2 separate regions of the Homo sapiens genome follow, and region 1 is linked to region 2. The links come from fine-mapping of genetic effects on gene expression. A gene starts in region 2. The other region holds a variant in brackets. All regions are shown on one strand. Distances are from middle to middle.

The links. PIP is the estimated chance that this variant, and not a neighbour inherited with it, causes the effect.
Region 1: its variant is the best candidate, but not a certain one, in a credible set for the expression of PIGU in whole blood (TOPMed, PIP 0.55).

Annotation. Positions count from the first base shown.
Region 1 is chr20:34,422,443-34,427,820 of GRCh38, forward strand. It overlaps ITCH (itchy E3 ubiquitin protein ligase), which reads left to right. Exons shown (of 25, transcript NM_031483.7): 7 at 2,038-2,083. Among named protein-coding and RNA genes, the nearest start is that of MIR644A, 41 kb to the right of the region's middle. The variant TA/T (reference allele first, on the strand shown) is at 2,171.
Region 2 is chr20:34,675,005-34,680,382 of GRCh38, forward strand. It overlaps PIGU (phosphatidylinositol glycan anchor biosynthesis class U), which reads right to left and starts at 2,088. Exons shown (of 12, transcript NM_080476.5): 1 at 1,952-2,088. The coding sequence starts at 2,081. RefSeq lists enhancers at 1,556-2,442, 2,443-3,328 and silencers at 1,708-1,807, 2,048-2,157.

The sequences.
Region 1 (5,378 bases), 250 kb before region 2:
TATTTTGTTGTGGTTTTCTGATTTCATTTATGTCCCATTCATAAGCCATTTTAGGGGACTATATTCCATATTAAAACATTCTTAAACTGAAATTTACCCTTTATAGCCAAAATGTATTTCATTGTACCATTTTTTTTTTACCACATTAACATCTTTATTGAGTTGTATTTTATACAACATAAAATTTACCCATTTCAAGTGTACAGCTTAATGAATTTTAGTAACTTAAGTGAGGGATTCAACTATCACTGTAATTTAGGTTTAAAACATTTTTATCCCCTCAGTAAAATCCCTCTTGCCTGTTTACAGGAGCTTCCCTTCTCACTGTCAGCCACAGGCAACCACCACTAATCTGTATTTTTTTTTTTTTGAGACGGAGTTTCACTCTGTCGCCCAGGGTGGAGTGCAGTGGTGTGATCTCTGCTCACTGCAACCTCTGCCTCCCAGGTTCAAGTGATTCTCTTGCCTCAGACTCCTGAGTGGTTGGGACTACAGGCGCCCGCCACCACACTCAGCTAATTTTTGTATTTTTAGTAGAGATGAAGTTTCGCCATGTTGGCCAGGCTGGTCTCAAGTTCCTGACCTCAGGCAATCTGCCCACCTTGGCCTCCCAAAGTGCTGGGATTACAGGTGTGAGCCACCACGCCCGGCCTCTATTTTTTATCTCTAAAAATTCGTCTTTTTCTGGACATTTGTATAAATGGAATCATAAAATATCTGTTTTTTGTGTCTGGCTTCTTTCACTTAGCATAATGTTTTTGAGGTTCATCCATGATATAGCGTGTTTCATTAGTTTGTTCTCTTTTATTACCAAATAGTAATAATTCCATTGTATAGACAACATTTTATTCACATACTATTTAAAGATAATATATTTCTAGACTGGATGAGACATTTACCAACTTTGCTAAGTATGGTATAGTATAGTGGTGACTCAGTATTTTTTAAATTAATCCACCAATTATGCTTTTTTGTAATATGGTAATAATTTCCCTGTTTAAACTATGATTCTATCCAGGGCCTATTGTTCCTTTACTAAATGGACCTAGGTGGTCGAACTTGAGTTCTTGTTTCTACATGTGATCATTTTTCTTTCTCTTTCCCTGTTTACCATTTGTTTTGCTTCTTTAAATGTACCTACCTTTAGCACCCTCCCTCCAACACTTTTCTTTTTTTTGAGACGGGAGTTTTGCTCTTGTTGCCCAGACTGGAGTGCAATGGCGCGATCTTGGCTCACTGAAATTTCTGCCTCCCGGGTTCTAGCGATTCTCCTGCCTCAGCCTCCCAAGTAGCTGGGATTGCAGGTGCCTGCCACCACTCTTGGCTAATTTTTGTATTTTTAGTAGAGACAGGTTTTACCATGTAGGCCAGGCTGGTCTTGAACTCCTGACCTGAGGTGATTCGCCCACCTTGGCCTCCCAAAATGCTGGGATTACAGGTGTAAGCTGTTGCACCTGGCTCCTCCAACACTGTTACAGTAAAAAGATCTGGACTGAATCCTAAGGATATTTTCCATCAATAAAGCAAGAAGAAAATAAGAATATTGTGGCATTAATTTTTGGCAACTTGGATTCCCATTTGTGGCTTTCCTAATTTTTAAGCTGTTTTCCAGGCCCCTGCAATAAGAGAGACGTTATGGGTTTTTCTGTTTCTGGAATCGATTTTATTCTGCTGGCGATCAGCACTTTTTTATGAGGTATTTGGGATACAAAGATGGTTAAAACACTAGGTTTAAATTAGAGTTAGACATATTTCAAAAAAAAGGCAGGAATAGTAGTGCATGAGTAATATACCTTTAGTAATTAACATCCCGTATCCATTAATTATTAAGCATTTGCACAAAATTTTGGCAGACTTTTTTTGCAGTCATGAAAATCACATTTTTCCTTTTAAAGTCATGTTGGAATTTAAGTTATAGTATGTTCTTTATTACAAAGATTTAATAAAAGGCTTTGCTTACATGGCATGTTTAGAAAAGAAAAAACATGAAAACTACTCTCTTGAAACTCATTTTCTGTTTAAACTTTGATGTTAAAGGTGCTTCTCAGAATGATGATGGCTCCAGATCCAAGGATGAAACAAGGTAAGCATTCACTGATTGCTTACCACAGAATGCGGAGAGATAGATTTCCTAAATATTCATTTTAGTGTAAACTTCAGGTTCATGATA[TA/T]AGAATAAATGAGTGTCAGAAAGAATTCAGAACTCAAGAAGGGAAATATTTGCAAAAGATTGAAGACTCTTAGCTTATCGGATTAGAGCTATCTGGAGTGGGCTAGGGATAACCAAATTGTTGATACTTCTTCAGCTTGTAGAAAATAAATATACTGGCACCTTTTCAGAGGCAGGGTGTTCTAAACTCCAGAGCCATCATTGGGCTGTTAAGTTTCTTTTCCAGAAAAACTGAGATAGGAGCTTTACACATATGTGAAGGTCACCACTAGCTATGGTATCATCTGGGCCTTCATTAGAAGGGGCAGAGCTTTGTACCAGCTGTTTGCTGTTAGCCCAGGTTTAGCACTTTCATGTGCCTATCTGCGTTCAAGTTTGGACCTAAATGTGGGGAAAAGAAAGAAAGATCAGTTTGTTACTGTGTCTATGTAGAAAAGGAAGACGTAAGAAACTCCATTTTGATCTGTACTAAGAAAAATTGTTCTGCTTTGAGATGCTGTTAATCTGTAACTTTAGCCCCAACCCTGTGCTCACAGAAACATGTGCTGTATTGATTCAAGGTTTAATGGATTTAGGTCTGTGCAGAATGTGCCTTGTTAACAATATGTTTGCAGGCAGTATGCCTGGTAAAAGTCATCGCCATTCTCCATTCTCGATTAACCACGGACACAATGCACTGCAGAAAGCCGCAGGGACCTCTGCCCAAGAAAGCCTGGGTATTGTCCAAGGTTTCCCCCCACTGAGACAGCCTGAGATATGGCCTCGTGGGAAAGGAAAAACCTTACATCCTCCAGCCCAACACCTGTGAAGGGTCTGTGCTGAGGAGGAGTAGTGAAAGAGGGAGGCCTCTTTGCAGTTGAGATAAGAGGAAGGTTTCTATCTCCTGCTCGTCCCTGGGAATGGAATGTCGGGGTGTAAAGCCAACCATTCGTTCTATTCTGAGATAGGAGAAAACCGCCCCGTGGCTGGAGGTGAGATATGCTGGCAGCAATACTGCTCTGTTACTCTTTGCTACAGTGAGATGTTTGTGTAAAGTGAAACATAAATCTAGCCTCTGTGCACATCCAGACATAGTACCTTTCCTTGAACGTATTCATGATACAGATTCCTTTGCTCACATTTTTCCCTGCTGACCTTCTCCCCACCATCACCCTGTTGCCCTGCCACACTCCCCTCGCCAAGATAGTAAAAATAGTGATCAATAAATACTAAGGGAAATCAGAGACCAGCGCTGGTGTGGGTCCTCACACGTTGAGCGCCGGTCTCCTGGGCCCACTGTTCTTTCTCTGTACTTTGTGTCTGTGTCTTATTTCTTTTCTCAGTCTCTCGTCTCCACCTGACGAGAAATACCCACAGGTATGGAGGGGCAGGCCCCCTTCATCTAAAAGGTGTTGAAAGCCTTGGACTATGTGAATTAACTTAGACTGCTTATTGGTTATCCTGGAAATCGGTAACAGCAGATAAAATTAGGAAAGGAGATGATTCTGCTTTTAAAGTAGTGAGTGGCATGTCTTAACCACAGAGTGCAGTGATTATAAAATTCCATTTGATTCTTTGTTTTTCTCAAATTGCATAAGCAGTGAGTAGGAAGAAGATGATGAACCACAGGAGGAGTAGTCAGAAGGGGAGAAGAACGAGAAAAGTAATGTCACAGACTGTGAGGGAAAATTATCCACAAAGATGGGATGTTACAGTGTCAGATGCTGCAGAGGAGGATAGGTGAAGAAAGTAGAACAAAATACTGATGGTTGTTGAAGCTGTGCTGTTAGGTACATGGGAGTTTATTGTATTAGTCTATCTGCATTTGTCATCTATGGGTTGTTTTTTTTTTGTTTTGTTTTTTTGTTTTTTTAGATGGAGATTCACTCTTTCACCCAGGCTGAAGTGCAGTGGCGCGATCTCAGCTCACTGCAACCTCCATCTCCCGGGTTCAAGCGATTCTCTTGCCTTAGCCTCTTGTGTAGCTGGGACTACTCAAGACAGGCATACACCACCATGCCCGGCTGTTTGTATTTTTAGTAAGAGATGGGGTTTTGCCATATTGGCCAGGCTGGTCTTGAACTCCTGATCTCAAGTGATCTGCCTGCCTTAGCCTCCCAAAGTGCTGGGATTATAGGCATAAGCTGCCATGCCTGGCCGATAGATATATGGAAGTTTTTTGGTTTTTTTTTTTGTTTTTTGAGGTGTTGTCTCACTCTGTCACCCAGGCTGGAGTGCAGTGACACAATTTTGGCTCTCTACAACCTCCACCTCACAGGTTCAAGCAATTCTCCTGGCTCAGCCTCCCGAGTAGCTGGGATTACAGGCACCCGCCACGATGCCCAGCTAATTTTTTGTATTTTTAGTAGAGACGGGGTTTCACCATGTTGGCCACTATGGTCTCATTCTTCTGACTTCGTGATCTGCCTGCCTCAGCCTTCCAAAGTGCTGGGATTACAGGCATGAGCCACTGCACCTGGCCAATATATGAAGGTTTTCATAATAAAAAGTTAAAGACAACTCATCAAGATCTTTAGGAAAATCAAAGTTTATAAAGCTGTTGTGTCTTACCTAATAGGTATCTGCTTTCACATTCTTATGATGAAGAATCATCTATACTAATCTCACGAGATGTAGAATATTAAGGAGCAGTAACTTCTTGCCTAGAAAATAGCAGATACTTTTATTCTTTACTGTGATTAAAATCAATGGGGCCGGTCATGGTAGCTCACACCTGTAATCCCAGCATTTTGGGAGGCCAAGACAGGAGGATCACTTGAGCCTAGGAGTTTGAGACCAGCCTGGGCAATTGAGTGAGACCTCATCTCTACAGAAAACAAAACAAAACAGAAAAATTAAAATTAAAAAACGGTAGTTAGGCCTGGTGGCACGTGCCTGTAGTCCCAGCTGTTGGAGTGGGGAGGGTGCCCAAAGTGGGAGGATCACTTGAGCTGGGGAGATCAGTGAGCTGAGATCGTGCCACTGTACTCAGAGTGATGACAGTTAGACCCTGTGTCAAAAAAAAAGAAAAGCAATAGGACAGGTTTAAAAAATTACATAAATATCTGTAGACTGAATACTATTATGTCTCTTTTGTCTTTTTTTAGTATTATTATATTTAGTAGAAGATTTCTTGAATTCCTGAAAGTTCCCGCATAAAATGTTTTAGTATTTCAGTTTGCTTTGGTCATTTACCTCTTCTTTTACACAATAAACCTGTATCTTTGTA
Region 2 (5,378 bases):
TTGGGAGGCCGAGGAAGGCAGATCACCTGAGGTCGGGAGTTCAAGACCAGCCTGACCAACATGGAGAACCCCTGTCTCTACTAAAAATACAAAATTAGCCAGGCATGGTGGTGCATGCCTGTAATCCCAGCTGCCCAGGAGGCTGAGGCAGAAGAATTGCTTGAACCCAGGGGGCGGAGGTTATGGTGAGCCGAGATCGCACCATTGCACTCCAGCTAGGGCAATGAGAGTGAAACTCCATCTCAAAAAAAAAAAAAAAAAAAAAGAGAGAGAGAGAAAATGTGGAAAAACCGGATATAAACAGGTAATTATGAGATAAGAAATGCTCTTAGTAGGGTGTAGAGGAAGAAGGGCCTAATACTGCCTCAGGTTTTCAGTTATCCAGAAGAAAACAGGAACCAAATGGCTTCGATTCATTTCAACAGAAAAATAATACGCAGAGGTAACAAATCCAAGCTCTTACAATCTCAGACATGAATTATTACTATCTTTATTACCATTCCCCAACTAGGAAACCTGGGCAAATTAACTTCTCTAAATTTCAGTTCCCTCATCTGTAAAAGGGGGAAAATAACACCATCTATCACATAGAAATAAATGTGAGGACTAAATGAGAAAAGGTATATGTTACCATTTTTAGAAACCTTAACTCTATTCATAAAACACCCATTCATTATGCCGTTCCCCATACCAACATTCTATGGGATAACATCAAAACGTTAGCCTTGGCCAGGTGCCATGGCTCACGCCTGAAATCCCAGCACTTTGGGAGGCCAAGTGAGACTGCTTGAGTCCAGGAGTTCCAGACCAGCCTGGGCAACATAGAAAGACCCTGTCTCTAAACAAAAAACAAAAACAAAAACAAAAAAACTTTAGCATTTAAAGGACACAAAGGGGACTTCTGGGGTGCTGATACTGTTTCTTGAACTAGGTGCTGGCTACATGAGTGAATACAGTTTTTAAAAATTCATTGAACTCTACACTTACTTAATATGCATTGTATGTATACTGTACTTCAGTAAAAAAAAAAAAAAAAAAGTTGTTTGTTTTTTTTTAATCATCAAACTCTGGCCTAAACCTAGCTTCCACCCCATTACTCCCCTGCTTTGGACATTTCACATCCTTGAACGTTTCTTCATCCTATTTACTTTCTGCTACCTGGAACTCTCCTTTTCTCTAATCTCCCTTTCAAAACCCTACATCCTTCAAGAGTCAGCTCAAATCCCACATTCTGGAAAACTGGAAAGGTAGGGGATAGTTTATTCAGGGTCAGAATACTAAGGAAGGAACTGGGTGGACACATAAAGTATACTTTTCATGAATTATTATAACGATTTGTCTCCCTCACTAGCCTGTGCAGCTACTTCAGGCCAACTTCGCTTTCTCGCTGTAGGCGTTAGTATAAAACAATGTTCGGTGAAGAACTTAGTAAGGAACAGTAACAAAAATTGCCCTGCAAGTCCCAGACTGAGAAGAGACGTCTAAAGCACACGCACACTCTCCTCGCTTAAGCAAAATTGGTCCCCTCATCCCGGACCCCCTCACACATAACCTTTTATCCCAGGGAGCACCCCTGGCGATCCCGCCCCAAATCCCAAACTCCTCTGCAAGCCGCGCTCCACAAGCACCTCCTCCTCTTATTCCAACCCTTCCCACAGACCACACTCCTCGGCTCAGGACACTGAATGGGACACGCCCCCTCAGATCCCCACCACTAGGTGGTCCGGCCCCCAGGGCCCAAACCTCACGACACTGTCCCCACGCCCCGGTCCCCACGCCCCCTCCCCTCACCAGCCCCGCCCTCAGGCCCCGCCCTCTCCAAGAACCCCACGAGACAGTCAGTTAGTTCTCTAGGAACCGCGCGCTGGCGGTCACTGCCCCCGCCTCCCATTCACAGAGGCCGCGGGAGGGCAGGTGGGGCCTGACAGTCTGCTCGAGCCAGTGGCCTCACCTCTCTTCCAAGAGCTCAGTGGGGACACCACCTCCACCCGCTCGGAAATGAACTCGGCCAGACTGGAGCGGAACAAGGCCGCCCGCACTGTCACAGCCACCACCAGCACCAGGACCAAGGGAGCCGCCATGATAACTGGGGCGGGCGCGCGGGCGGGGAGGGAAGGCGAGGCGGAGGAGCCTCGCGCGCTGTGCGCCACGCTCTGTAGTTCCGCGGGTGGGCGCGCGCTGCCGCTGGCGCCGGAGAGGCCAGACGTGGGGACTACGGCTCCCAGAAAGCCTTGCGGCGAGGCGGGCCGGAGCGACGGAAAGCGGGCGCCTCAAGCTGCGTATGCAGAAGGTGGGGCGAAACCTTCTACGATCGCAGGTGTTTTGTGAAGCCGCGCCGCTATAGCGGGGCTGAAACGCTGCTGAAAGTAGAAGCGGAAGTAGTCGCCTTCCTGGGATTGTGAGAGACTTTTAAACAGATGTTAAATTCACTCTTGCGTGTATGTTTTCAATGCCAAAATGTTTATTTTTATTTTTATTTTTATTTTTTTTGAGACGGAGTCTCGCTCTGTCGTCCGGCTGGAGTGCAGTGGCGCGATCTTGGCTCACTGCAACTTCCGCCTCCTGGGTAGCTGGGATGACAGGCGCCCACCACCACGCGCGGCTATTTTTTTTTTTTTTTTTTTTTTGTATTTTTAGTAGAGATGGGGTTTCACCATGTTGGCCAGGTTGGTCTCGAACTCCTGACCTCAGGTGATCCGCCCGCCTCGGCTTCCCAAAATGCTGGGATTACAGGCGTGAGCCACCGCACCCTGCCCAAAATGTTTATGTTTTTTGTTTTTGAGACAGGGTCTCAGTGCCGTCGCCCAGGCTGGAGTGCAGTGGCGCAATCTCAGCTCACTGCAGCCTGGACCTCCCGGGCTCCAGAGTAGCTGGGACCACAGGTGCGCGCCACCACACCCGGCTAAGTTTTTGTACTTTTAGTAGAGACGGGGTTTCGCCATGTTGCCCAGGCTGGTACCTTTTATGTTTTTAAAGAGTGTTAAATGTGTATTTTTTAAAAAATTTATTCTGGCAGTTGTTTGTTAAACGCCAACTATTTTCCAGGCACTATGTTAGGTTCTACAGATGCGTTTTGGAGTAGTAGACTGATTTATTAGCTAGTTCAACAAGTCGCTTAACCCTTGTGTGCTGAAAAATGTGCTGATTATAGGCTAACTAGGGACAGTTGAGGAAGGCTTAGAAATTTTTTTTTTGTTTTGGAAACGGAGTTTCGCTCTTATTGCCCGGGTTGGAGTGCAATGGCGCGATCTCAGCTCACTGCAACCTCCGACTCCCAGGTTCAAGCGATTCTCCTGCCTCAGCCTCCCGAGTAGCTGGGATTACATGCATGCGCCATCACGCCCGGCTAATTTTTTGTAATTTTAGTAGAGACAGGGTTTCTCTATGTTGGTCAGGCTGGTCTCGAACTCCAGACTTCAGGCGATCCACCTGCCTGCCTCGGCCTCCCAAAGTGCTGGGATTACAGGCTTGTGTCATCGTGCCTGGCCGGAAGGCTTAGAAATTTTGCCAGTCGCTTTTAAACACAGGCATTTTTGAAAATTAAGACATATAAACCTACAGTTAAATAACTTATATTGAAAACAACGGAATACATATTCAACACGTCACTTTCTAATTATTTTACTACACTTTTTTTTATATGTGCTTTTGAGATTATTTACCACCGCTGTATCAGTACAGCAAATACTATCTCTTTCTCTTCCCAAATGGTGGTGTTCAGTTTCCTCAGGTTGATAGATTGAAAATCCCTCCCAATGCGAGTGTTTACACCACAGGAATCAGCAAACACTACAAATCAGGGGTTTGGGGTTTGGAGAGCCCATTGATAAGCATTAAGCAGCACACTTCATTAATTAATGTATAGTAAGTGCTTAAATATTAGCAATAATAATATTAAATGTGCAAGGAAATTTCATATTTGTGAAGAAAAGGAAACAGGCTGGACGCAGTGGCTCACGCCTGTAATCCCAGCACTTTGGAAGGCCGAAGCAGCCGGATCACTTGAGGTCAGGAGTTTGAAACCAGCCTGCCCAACATGGTGAAACCTCGTCTCTATTAAAATTACAAAAATTAGCCAGGCATGGTGGCCTGTGCCTGCAGTCCCAGCTACTCAGGAGGCTGAGGCAAGAGAATCACTTGAACCTGGGAGGCGGAGGCTACAGCGAGCCAAGATAGCGCCATTGCACTCCAGCCTGGGCGACAGAGCCAGACTCTGTCTCAAAAAAAGAAAGAGAGAGAAGAAAGAAAACGAAACAGTGTATGACTGAGAATAACTGCTGGTGTAATAATAAGGGTGGTAACACTAGACAAGGTGATCAGGGAAGACTCTAGAAAGAGGTGATATTTGAGCTGAGACCTAAAGGATGAGAAATTAATCAGAGCCTCCAAGCAGAAGGAACGGACTGAGTGGGGAAAGAGCAAGGTATGTTTGAGGATCAGAAAGAAAACAAGTATGGCTCAAGTGGAGAGAATAGAAGAAGCTGTGGATGGAGAGACGGGGGGCAATCAGGTAGGGACCTATTGGCCATGCTTGAGAATTTGGGCTTTATTCAAAGTGCAATCCATATGCCATTGGAGAATTTTAAACCAGAAATGATGTGAACAGGTGTACATTTTTCAAACATCTCTATATTCCCACAAGCCCTCTATTGGGTGTTGGGGAATATTGCAGTGACAAAATGGCACCATCTGCCTTTGCCCTTATGTAACTTGGAAAGCAGTTGAAGAGATAAAATAGTTAAAGAATAACATAAGTAAAATCACAAACCATAACTCCAGCCTGGGCGACAGAGCAAGACTCCGTCTCAAAAAAAAAAAAAAAAAATCACAAACCTTAATGAGAGAAAGAAAAGGGGGAGTGGGCCAGGCGCAGTGGCTCACGCCTGTAATCTCAGCACTTTGAGAGGCCATGGCGGGAGGATTGCTTGAGCCCAGGAGTTTGAGACCAGCCTGGGCAACATGGTGAAACCTGTCTCTACAGAAAACATAAGAATTACCCAGGCATGGTGGCGCATGCCTGTAGTCTCAGCTACTGGGAAGGCTGAGGTGGGAGAATCACTTGAGCCTGGGAGGTTGAAGCTGCAGCGAGCCAAGATCACGCCGCTGCTCTCAGGCCTGTACGACAAAGCAAGACCTTGCCTCAAAAAAAAAAAAAAAGAAAAAAGAAAAAAAATGGCCGGGCGCAGTGGCTCACACCTGTAATCTCAGCACTTTGGGAGGCCGAGGCAGGCAGATCACTTGAGGTCAGGAGTTCGAGACCAGCCTGGCCAACATGGTGAAACCCCGTCTCTACTAAAAATACAAAAAATTTAGCTGGGCAAGGTGGCGGGCACCTGTAATCCCAGCTACTTGGGAGGCTGAGACAGGAGAGTCACTTC